Homo sapiens: one gene and its partners. The protein of the gene in region 1 interacts with the protein of each later gene in a pairwise test. Each region holds a gene or a part of one and is shown in the gene's direction. Other genes may lie near its edges.

Region 1 (3,656 bases):
CAGTATTTGTCTTGTGACTGGCTTATTTCACTAAATGTAATGTCCTCAAGGTTCTAGCATGCTGTAGTTTATGTTAGAATTTCTTTCCTTTTAAAGGCTAAATAATACAATAGTATACATTTTTAAAGAAAAATAGTAATCTTTTGCTCACTCCACTACTCATCCCTCAATCTCACTTTCAAGAGGCAACAACCTTAATTATTTTAGCTGTTTCTTCTGGTTTTACTTCTATATTTCTGTGTTATAGGATACCACATTTTGCTTATCCATTGGACACTTGGGTTGCTCCCACATTTTAGCTATTGCGAATAATTCTGTGGACACGGGTATACACGTATCTCTTTGAGACCCTGCTTTTCAATTCTTCTGGCTGTATACCCACAAGTGGAATTGCTGGATCACATAGTCATTCTGTTTTTAGTATTTTGAGGCATCACCATACTGTTTTCCGTGGCAGCTGCATTTTACATTCCCTTCAACAGTGCACAAGGGTTCCAGTTTCTCCACATCCTTAACAACACTTTTATTTTCCTTTTTTTTTTATAGTGGCCATTATAATGGGTGTCAGGTGGTATCTTATTGTAGCTTTGATTTGCATGTCTGTAATGATGGTGATATTGTGCATTTTCATGTGCTTTTTGGCCATTTATGTATCTTTCAAGAAATGTATAGCCAAGTCTCTTGCCCATTTTTGAATTGGTTTGTTTTATTGTTGTTGAGTTTTAGGAGTTCTCTGTATATTCTGGATATAATCCCTTATCAGATATATGAATGTGCAAATATTTTCTCCCACTCTGTGGTTTGCCTTTTTTACTCTGTTGATAGTGTCTTTTGATGTACAACTTAACATTTTTTCATGAAATTCCAATTTGTTTATTTTTTGTTGTTGTTGCCTATGCCTTTGGTGTCATATCCAAGAAATCATTGCTAAACTTCATGCTGTGAAGGTTTTGCCCTGTGTTTTCCTTTAAGAATTTTATAGTTTTAGGTCTTACATTTAAGCCTGATCTCTTTTGAGTTAATTTTCGTATATGGTATTAGGTGAGTGTCCAGCTTTGTTCTTTTGTTTGTGGATATCCAGTTTTTCCCCACCATTTGTTGAAAAGCCTGTCCTTTCCCTCACTGAATGATCTTAGCACCCTTGTCAAAAAGTATTTGACCATGTATGTGAGGTTTTATTTCCAGGTTCTCTGTTCCAAGGTCTCCAACCCTCAGGCCGTGGACTAGCACCAGTCCACAGCCTGTTAGAAACCAGGTCGCACAGCGGGAGGTGAGCAGCAGGAGGTGAGCAGCAGGAATTCGAGCATTACAGCCTGAGCTCCACCTCCTGTCAGATCAGCAGTGGCATTAGATTCTCATAGGTGCAGGAACCCTACTGTGAACTGTGCATGTAAGGGATCTAGATTGCATGCTCCTTACGAGAATCTAATGCCTGATGATCTGAGGTGGAACAGTTTCATCCAGAAACCATTCCCCTGGCCTGTGGGAAAATTGTCTGCCATGAAACTGGTCCTGGCCAAAAAGGTTGTGACTGTTGATTTATTCCATTGGTCTAGATGTCTGTCTTTATGCCAGTATCACAGTTTTGATTACCGTAGCTATGTAATATGTCTTGGAATCAGGAAGAGTGAATTCTCCAGCTTTAATTATTTTGTAAGATTGTTTTGGCTATTTGGGGCCCTTGAGATTCCACGTGAATTTTAGAATGAGTTTTTCTATTTCTGATAAAAAAAAAAAATTGGGATTTTGAGAGGAATTGTAGTGAATCTGTAAATTTGTTTGGGTAGTATTGATATCTTAGCAATATTAAGTCTTTCTTTTCCCACATAGGCTGATGGGGAAAAAAAAAATTAAGTCTTCCAGTACATGAACATGAGCTGTGTTTCTATTTATTTATGTGTTCTTTAATATCTTTCAGCAATGTTTTATAGTTGTTATTGTACAGGTTTTCATTTTCGTGGTTAATTTTGAAATATTTTTTCTTTTTGATACTATTGTAAAAACTACATAATTTCCTTTTCATCATATTTATTATTAGTTTATAAAAATGCAATTGATTTTTGCGTGTTGACTTTGTATTCTGCTACTTTACTGAATTCATTTATTCTAACAGGTTTTTTGTGTGAAATCTTTAAGGTTTACTGTATATAAGAGCCTACCATCTGTGAACAGGAATAATTTTACTTCTTTCTTTTCTGTTTGTATGCCTTTTATTTCTTTTTCTTGCTTAGTTGCTCTGGCTAGAACTTACTCAAGCATTCTTATGGTGTAGAAATCAGATTGCTTCCGTGTGAATGGGAATAGATACAAATCTTATTTATTGATCCTGATTTTGTATTTTGATACTTTTCATATTTTTATAAAGGGACTTACTTTCCATTTAATGTAGCTTTTAAACTGATTTTCTAAGAAATAAACCTTTTATATTTAATTTTATTTCTAAAGTGGCACAGGGAGTTTGACATGCAGTTTTTTAGCTTTTATTTAATGCCCATCAATTGCTTACAATGTGACTAACAAATTTTTGCATTGCTGTGTTATAATTCTTACTGCCTAATGAAGTTATTTACAAATATATTTGAATTTCTTTATGAAATAAATTGGGAAGTAACATTTCATAGTTGATGTGGAAGATTGCTTTCTTTTCTTTCTTGGGAAAACCCTTTTTATTTTCAGTCATGTGAAAACACTTAAACATATCAGTGTGCTTTTTTACCTGTCTTACAGGATTGTACTGCAGCCTGTCTTGGTTAAATCGGAAGGTTTTGAGGGGTAGAGCTAGTTAGTGGGGTTAGTATGGCCTGACTAGTGGCAGGCAATGTGGCTATTTTTTTTTTTTTTTCAATTTTTTGCTTTTTGCTTTATTTATGTTTTAGCAAAACTGGTGATCCAAGCAAGTGGAGTATTGCATTTTATCTCTTTATTACGTTCACTTTGAAATAAGGATTGAGTGTTTGTTCATGTTTTATTATTTGTTTGTACAAAGTCCTATGAGTAGAATTATTGGATCAAGTAAAAAGAACGTTTTAGACTCTTGATAACATATTGCCAAATTATTTTAGTGCCAGTTTAAATTCCACAAGCAAAGTGAGAGAATGCTTGTCATATCTCATTACTTTTTGCCTTTACTGGGTGCTATTGAAAACAGATCTCTGTGATTTTTAGATGAAAACTTGTATCTTGCTTAAATTTTTATTTTTAAAATTAGTAACAGGAGCAAGTATTTTATTTTATTCGATTTTATTTGTTTTTTTTTGGAGGGGGGGGACAGAGTCTTGTTCTGTCGCCCAGGATGGAGGGCGGTGGCGCTGTCTCGGCTCACTGCGGCCTCCACTTCCCCGGGTTCAAGCAGTTCTCCTCTCTCAGCCTCCCGAGTAGCTGAGGCTACAGGCATGTGCCACCACACCGGGCTAATTTTGTATTTTTAGTAGAGATGGGGTTTCGTTACGTTGGCCAGGCTGGTCTTGAACTTCTGACCTGAGGTGATCCACCCGCCTTGGCCTCCCAAAGTGCTGGGATTACAGGTGTGATCCACTGCACCTGGCCAACAAGAGCAAGTATTTTAAATGCTTATTACCCGGTTGTCTGTCTTTTATGATTTTACTTTCATCTTTAGCCTTGTTTTTAAAGAGTTGATTTATCTGGTTAACGTATTT
Region 2 (3,656 bases), on another chromosome or scaffold:
TGTCTGAAAAGCCAGTGAGGCCACAGGTAGATACGGATATTCGGCAGTCTAGTCTTTTAATACGAAATTAAGTCAGAAGGCTTTTTTTTTTTTTTTAACTTAATACTGTATCTTGGACATTTTTCCATAGCAGTACATTAGCCCAATGTACTGCTTTGCTCCTTGTTTTTTGTTTGTTTGATTGTTTGTTTTGTTTGTTTTGTTTTGTTGACGGAGTTTCACTTGTTACCCAAGCTAGAATACAGTGGCGCAATCTCTGCTTACTGCAACGTCTCCCTCCTGGGTTCAAGCGATTCTCCTGCCTCAGCCTCCCAAGTAGCTGGGATTACAGGTGCATGACGCCACGCATGCCTAATTTTTTGTATTTTTAGTAGAGACGGGGTTTCATGATGTTGGCCAGGCTGGTCTCGAACTCCTGACCTCAGGTGATCCACCCACCTTGGCCTCCCAAAGTGCTGGGATTACAGGCTTGAGCCACCGTGCCCGGCCTACTTTGCTCTTTTTAACTGTTGCATCATATTTTGTGGCATGGATATACCATAATCAGTGCTTTATTGATATTTTTTCTGATGTTAAAATATATATATATATATATATGTGCACATATATACATCCAATGCTGCACAGAATGTTGCATATACAAATACAGTCACACATACGTAGACATACTTGTCCACATATTAGTGTATCTATAGGATGCTGAGTTATAGAGCATGTGCATTTATGGGGTTTTGTTGTTTTTTTCTTTTAATGTTTTTGTAAAGATGGGGTCTTGCTATGTTGGCCAGGCTGGTTCCTAACTCCTGGCCTCAAGCCATCCTCCTGCCTTGGCCTCCCAAAGTGTTGGGATTACAGGTGTGAGTCACCATCCCCAGCCATTTACAGTTTTGATAGAGACTTCTAGATTGCCCTCTAAAGACACTGTAACAGTTTATCTTTCTACTAGATGTTACAAGAGTCTCTTAAACTAAAACATAACCGTATTTTGAAATGCCTGTCTCTGTGGCCCTGTACTCTACTGATCCCTTTGGAGGCCCTGGCTTCGATTCGGTTCAACAGGCTTTTCAGAGCTGCTTAAACGCTTCTTCTCCAGCAAGAAAAGCCATTGCTATTTTTTAATGCCTGATATGCTTCCCTCCTATATTGGCTCATAACCTACGGCCTCCAGAGAAGCAACCCTGAGCCCTTTTGTCCTCTTTCCTCAGATCAATGAGGAAATCTCCGTGAAGCACCTTCCGTCTACAGAGCCTGACCCCCACGTGGTCCGTATCGGCTGGTCCCTGGACTCCTGCAGCACCCAGCTAGGTAAGGAGGGGTCAGCTATGCAGTCCAGAGAATAGAGTGACTGTCCCTACCCTTGGATTTTCAAGGCTCCTAAGCTTCCTTTTCCAGCGTCAGACTTAGAATAGAACTAGGCTGAAGTGGAACAGGTACAAGGATTAGGTATATGCCACTGTCTCTGTCATGCTGTATTCAACTGAGAGGACTATGGTCATGAAACAACTTTTCTGTGAAGAATCAATTCTTATCCTTCATCTTTTAGGAGAGGGTCCAAAATTCTCTTTAGGAATCTATTCCCTTTCTGTAAAAAGGATCAGTGTCTCCTGCCCTTAAACCAAGCTGCTGATAAGTTCCCAAGCTCCATTAAGTTCTGTCTGTATTTTCTGTCCGGAGCCTAACCTAGAGGAAAAAGGGGAGCAGAGACCAGTGAGGCCAGGGCTAGTTGGGAGAGGGGCAGGGGCTGCCTATTGAAAGGTTTTGAATTTTGCGGGTCCCCAGGCTTCAATGACCTTCTGGTCCCAAGTGACTGATTATTCTGACCAATGCTGACACCTCCTGCCTTCCGTTTATGATCATACAAACGTTCCAATTATGAAAATAATATGTGTTGCGTATAAGAATTCAGGCCATACAGAAAGGGAAAAATGAAAATCCTTCCTAAACCTGTGAGAGAAACTAACCAATGTTAACATTCCATTTGTAGTCTTCTGGACATTTATTTTTTTGTACATCTTTAAACTGGATCACACTAGGACTACTTTGTATAGCCTTGTTTTAATGTATGATGGGCATATTTTTGTAAATAACTGCAGCTTTTTGACTACTGCATAATTTTCCATTTTATAGTTGCATTATTTAACAAGTCCCCTTCTGTAGCTCATTTAAACTTATTGCAAATTTTTGCTGTTTTAACACTTGAGCCATTATCCTGGTCCATAATTGCCTGACCACTTAAGACTAATCTTTAAAAATAGATGATATTCTCACTCACAAGTGTTTGTTTAAAAAATATGTTCACATGGACTTAGAGAGTGGAATAATAGATAATGGAGACTCAGAAGTGTTAGGGGGTAACAAGGTGGAGGAGGATGAGAAATTGGTTAATGGGTACGATGTACATTTTTTAGGTGATGAACACCCTAAAAGCTTGACCACTATGCAATCTGTGCATGTAACAGAATTGCACATGTACCCCATAAATTGGTACCTCCTCAAAAAGGTAGATATGTTAGCACCAAAAAAAAAAAGTATACAGTTTTCATTTCCATATGTGTTAGCACTTTTTATTTAAGACTCATAAGTCATCTCATCTTATCTCTGTCTCCGTTTTGAGATGTAGGTGGTGGCAGTTGATAGGGATGGGGAAACAGCCCAGGAGGTCAAGCACCATATCCAGGGTCACATAGCTGGTTTGTAGCAGAACGAGCCCTGGCATTCATGCTTGTCGGCCCCTGCTTTTCTAACAGCATACTCTTTGGGTTCTGCCCGGAATCTCTAACTCAGGTGTCAGCCAGAGCCCTTGGGATCTCTCAGTCATATCACTTCAGCACCCAGTTCTGTAGCCTGAGGAAATCTAGTACCTTTCCCAGGGGTCAGTCCTCATGGTCTCCAGGAGCAAAATCCAGCCCCTTCACTGATTTCTACCACAAGTAGACTGGACTGAATATTGGGTGTCACAAGGAAGGGTTGCATCTCAGCATACAGCCATTCTCCTCCATCCCAACTCCTGTCTTCCTTCCTCCCTTTCTTTTCAAATTCTCCCCTCTGTGCAGAGTTATTCAGTTGAGCTCCTACTCCCAGACTGGACAATGAAACCCATCAAGCCCTCCAAGTTCTACATCATTAAGGGCTTCCTTTCACCCTTCCCCACCCCTATTTTAAAAAGGCATCTGATTAATAAAACTAGTAAAGAAAATGATTTTTTTCTTCAAAAATAAAAGTATGTGGCAGCCATTGAGGCTGTTATGACCATCGCAGGTTTAACCTGCCTTTGCCTATTTCTTCCGTCAGGCGAAGAGCCTTTCTCCTATGGCTATGGAGGCACTGGGAAGAAGTCCACCAATAGCCGGTTTGAAAACTACGGAGACAAGTTTGCAGAGAACGATGTGATTGGCTGCTTTGCGGTGAGTGCTAGCAGCCTGTGGGAGTTGGCAGAACCAGATGTTGGGCTACAGACTTCTTTTTCAGGATACCTCTATCCATTGTCTGCCCCATATCCAGCCACTCTCGCCATACTTCTTTGTCTCTGCTTGACAGACTGGAATGTTTACTGTCATTTTGTGGGAAATTCTGTCATTCCATCTCCTCTGGTCTTGTGTGCAAAGTTTTCAGATGACACCCTGAAGAGGTTTGGGGACTTCAGGTGTGCATAGCCT
Region 3 (3,656 bases), on another chromosome or scaffold:
GTTTGCTGTGAGCTACTTTGTCATAGCCAGAAGCAACAGTTCCTCAGTTTATTTTCTTTGTATTAAAACTCTTTTCTGGATAGAGTATAGTGCAAAATTCTGCTGCCCAATTCAGAATTAAAGAGTGTGGTTGGCAGGTTTGGTGGATAGGCTACATGGATAAATGGAAGTACCAGGTTTCGTGGATTTTTCATTTGCTTTAGTTAGATGTGTCATTTCTTCTATTTTATATTTATTTTAGTGAAGGCAACATTTCAATTATGTATTTAAATAAATATTTTATTATGGATAGTAAAAATTTTAATAATCTACTAATATTTAAATTTTTATTTGTAGGTGAGTACAATACTAGAATGCACAGTGAAACCTAAACTCAAAAAAGCTGTATTGTTATAATCAATATGAAAAATATATATGATGAAAGGCTTTTACAAATGTCATAGTATGTCTCTTATTTTACATTTATTTTCTCTTGAGTAATCAGCATGGTTTAAATATGTCTTTGGATGATTGTGGGAAAAATAAAAGTGTCTTAAAAATAAAAGTGTCATCTACGTTATAGTTTATGGATATATTATAAACATCATTAGACACACAACTTCTACCATTAGAATTTATAAGTCAATTATTAACTTAAAAAGAACCCCCAAATTTTCCCTAACCAGAGCATCAGATGGCAAATCCAGAATTAGCAATAAAACTCCTAGATTCCCTTCTTCCCTATGCTTTTATTTGCTTATTATAATGAAGATCTTTGGGGCGAGGGTATTTTTACTAACATATATGATGGGAAGTCCTGCTCAATAGTCAAGGGAAAAGGACCCATCTTTGACTTATTTTTTTCATTTTTTGCTCTCTGTGGTAGCCCTAAGAGTGTACTTCACAGACCTCCAACTACAGGCAACCTAAGTGACCAAGGGTCCCAGCTGCTGTTCTCTGAAATCCACTGCTGCTTTTGTGCTGAGCACTTGCTTCCCAAAGGCTGCTCCCAGCCACTGATTGAGAGGAGCAGGGATACTAAAGCTGGCCCCTCCCTGTCCTTGGGAGTCACCTGGCTCTAGCACTTCCTGATGGGCTTACAGAACCTTTCTTAGAGGGTGTAGCAATGTGGGATGATTCCACTTAACCTTCCTTGCATCTCTCCACCACTCTGTGTCAAACTTCTATTGTTTTTATCGGCTTTTCTAGTCTTCCTTGGCTCCCTCATCATTTTATATTACGGGAATTTTCCTTAATGAAATTCTTGTATGTTCAATCTTGTCTTCACATTCATTTTCAGAGGTCCTAGACTAACACATTCTCTATTTCTATAAAAAGATACTATCATATGAAATTACTAAGGAAAAAAAAATGTTTGCTATAATTTTAATGGTAATATTCTGATACTACTAGATTCTCAAATTTAGGGAAGTCAAAACTTCATATAATTGAGAGCTCTCCTCAGAAATTTATTCTTATATTAGTTTATTGATAGTCTGTATGTAAACTTGCTTTCAGAAGGACTGAATTGTTACAATAGTAAAATCAGGAGCTCATGTTCTCAGAAAACGTTAATTTACTCAGGATGATTAGATGGCTGTAAAGTAAAAAGCAATCCATAAGTCATCTTTGAGATATCTAAGGGTATTTAGTGAGAAATTGAAAGGAAATATTGCTGAGGGTGTGTTGATAACTGATACTTTGTTGAAAAGCAGAAACATTCAATATAATAGGTAGAAGTAATTTTGTTTCTTGCATATTGGTAATTTCATTTTGTGTGACTTACAGAAGAGTGCTTGTTCTTTATATGTTAGTGTTAAAATTCTTCTGTCTTTCTTTGCAGAATCATAGTGAAAGATTCGTTTTCATTGCAGAGTGGTATGATCCAAATGCTTCACTTCTTCGACGTTATGAGCTTTTATTTTACCCAGGGGATGGATCTGTTGAAATGGTAAATAAGCCTTTCTTTGCTTGAATGTTGGCAAAGGGGGTGAACATGGGAACCATTGCCTTTTATATAATTGCTTTTTAAAAACACATTTATATGTATGTGTGTGTGTATATATACATATGGAAATTCTTTTTAAACTTATTCATTATAATTCCAATATAAGAAGTTAACTTGTGCCTTTATTTTTAATGTCAAAAATAGGAATTTTTTGTTGTTGTTGTTAGAAGACTGAAGTGGGGGCTGGGCGCGGTGCCTCATGCCTGTAATCCCAGCACTTTGGGAGGCCGACCCAGGCAGATTACTTGAAGTCAGGAGTTCGAGACTAGCCTGGCCAACATGGTGAAAACCCATCTCTACTAAAGATACAAAAAATTAGCCGGGTGTGGTGGCACATGCCTGTAATCCCAGCTACTCGGGAGGCTGAGGCAGGAGAATAGCTTGAACTCAGGAGGTGGAGGTGGCAGTGAGCTGAGATCACGCCACTGCACTCCTGCCTGTCCTGCCTGGGCGACTGCATGAGACTCTTGTCTCAAAAAAAAAAAAAAAAAAAAAAAAAAGACTGAAATGGGATTATTCATGTTTTGGATAAGAAATAAACAAGTGATTATAGATAAGGATTATTATGGTCATAAATACGTCCTCATTATTGAAAGCTGTTATTGCTACAAAAAGTCAAATTGAAGAGGCTCAAGCTAAGAGACTTCTGTTTCTTTGTGTTCTTTCACTGGCAACACAATTTTAACAAGTAGATCTTTTTGGTATTGGGATTTTGTGTACACAAGAAAGCAGAAATTTGGGTGTATGACTCTTTCTTTAGCATTTTGTAAGGACTACTTTGCTGAAATGATTTGGTAATAAACAAATCTTTCTATTCAGGTTTTTAAGAGTATTAAATTTGTAATAAGAAGCTTTTATGTTATTACCAGATTGGATTAGGAAATATGGAAGTTATTAAAAATTATGATTTATATTTGTAACAAAAAAGAAACAGAATATAACCTATCTTTGATAAGACAGAATTAAGAATTATTTCTACCTTATGATGAGATTAACTTTCCTTATTCATAACTTTTTTTGTTTGTTTGTTATATTGTTGTGTCTGGTTCTAGCATGATGTAAAGAATCATCGCACCTTTTTAAAGCGGACCAAATATGATAACCTGCACTTGGAAGATTTATTTATAGGCAACAAAGTGAATGTCTTTTCTCGACAACTGGTATTAATTGACTATGGGGATCAATATACAGCTCGCCAGCTGGGCAGTAGGAAAGAAAAGTAAGAAAACAATTATATAATCTTTTTACATGCTCTAACTTTGGGTTCAAAGTCAATCTGAATCAAGACTGGGAGTATGTAACCATATGAGGATGGATAGGACCTGGAAAATGGTTGTCTTCATTCTTTTTCTTTTTTTCAATTTAAAAAAAAATTGATAATACCATAGTTGTGCATGTCTCATCTGACTTAATTCATGTTTATGTCTCCTGTGGCACTTAGCACATCTCCATCCACATTGCAAGCACCTTGTCTGTATTAGCTGAACGAATTAATGAATCACAATTTAAAATCTATGATCTATTCTTTCCTTTTTCCACTTTCTCCCTGTTTTCAAATGATGATCTTTGATCTAGTTGACCAGGAGGTTTTTGCCTAGATTGTTTGTAACTAATGCTGCCTATTGTCAAGTTTTGTTAACAGATATATATATATATATTTATATCTAAT

What was found.
Region 2: the proteins of PIAS2 (region 1) and HNRNPUL1 interact in binary tests that used the Homo sapiens proteins (3 or more experiments, as listed by UniProt).
Region 3: the proteins of PIAS2 (region 1) and NME7 interact in binary tests that used the Homo sapiens proteins (3 or more experiments, as listed by UniProt).

The regions. Positions count from the first base shown.
Region 1 is NC_000018.10:46,886,446-46,890,101, reverse strand, and holds part of PIAS2 (E3 SUMO-protein ligase PIAS2), read left to right. Parts: intron 1-3,656. UniProt on the Homo sapiens protein: Functions as an E3-type small ubiquitin-like modifier (SUMO) ligase, stabilizing the interaction between UBE2I and the substrate, and as a SUMO-tethering factor.
Region 2 is NC_000019.10:41,277,872-41,281,527, forward strand, and holds part of HNRNPUL1 (heterogeneous nuclear ribonucleoprotein U-like protein 1), read left to right. Parts: intron 1-1,205; coding exon 1,206-1,305; intron 1,306-3,291; coding exon 3,292-3,404; intron 3,405-3,656.
Region 3 is NC_000001.11:169,322,667-169,326,322, reverse strand, and holds part of NME7 (nucleoside diphosphate kinase homolog 7), read left to right. Parts: intron 1-1,822; coding exon 1,823-1,930; intron 1,931-3,039; coding exon 3,040-3,206; intron 3,207-3,656. UniProt on the Homo sapiens protein: Possesses an intrinsic kinase activity. Displays 3'-5' exonuclease activity with a preference for single-stranded DNA. Does not seem to have nucleoside diphosphate kinase activity.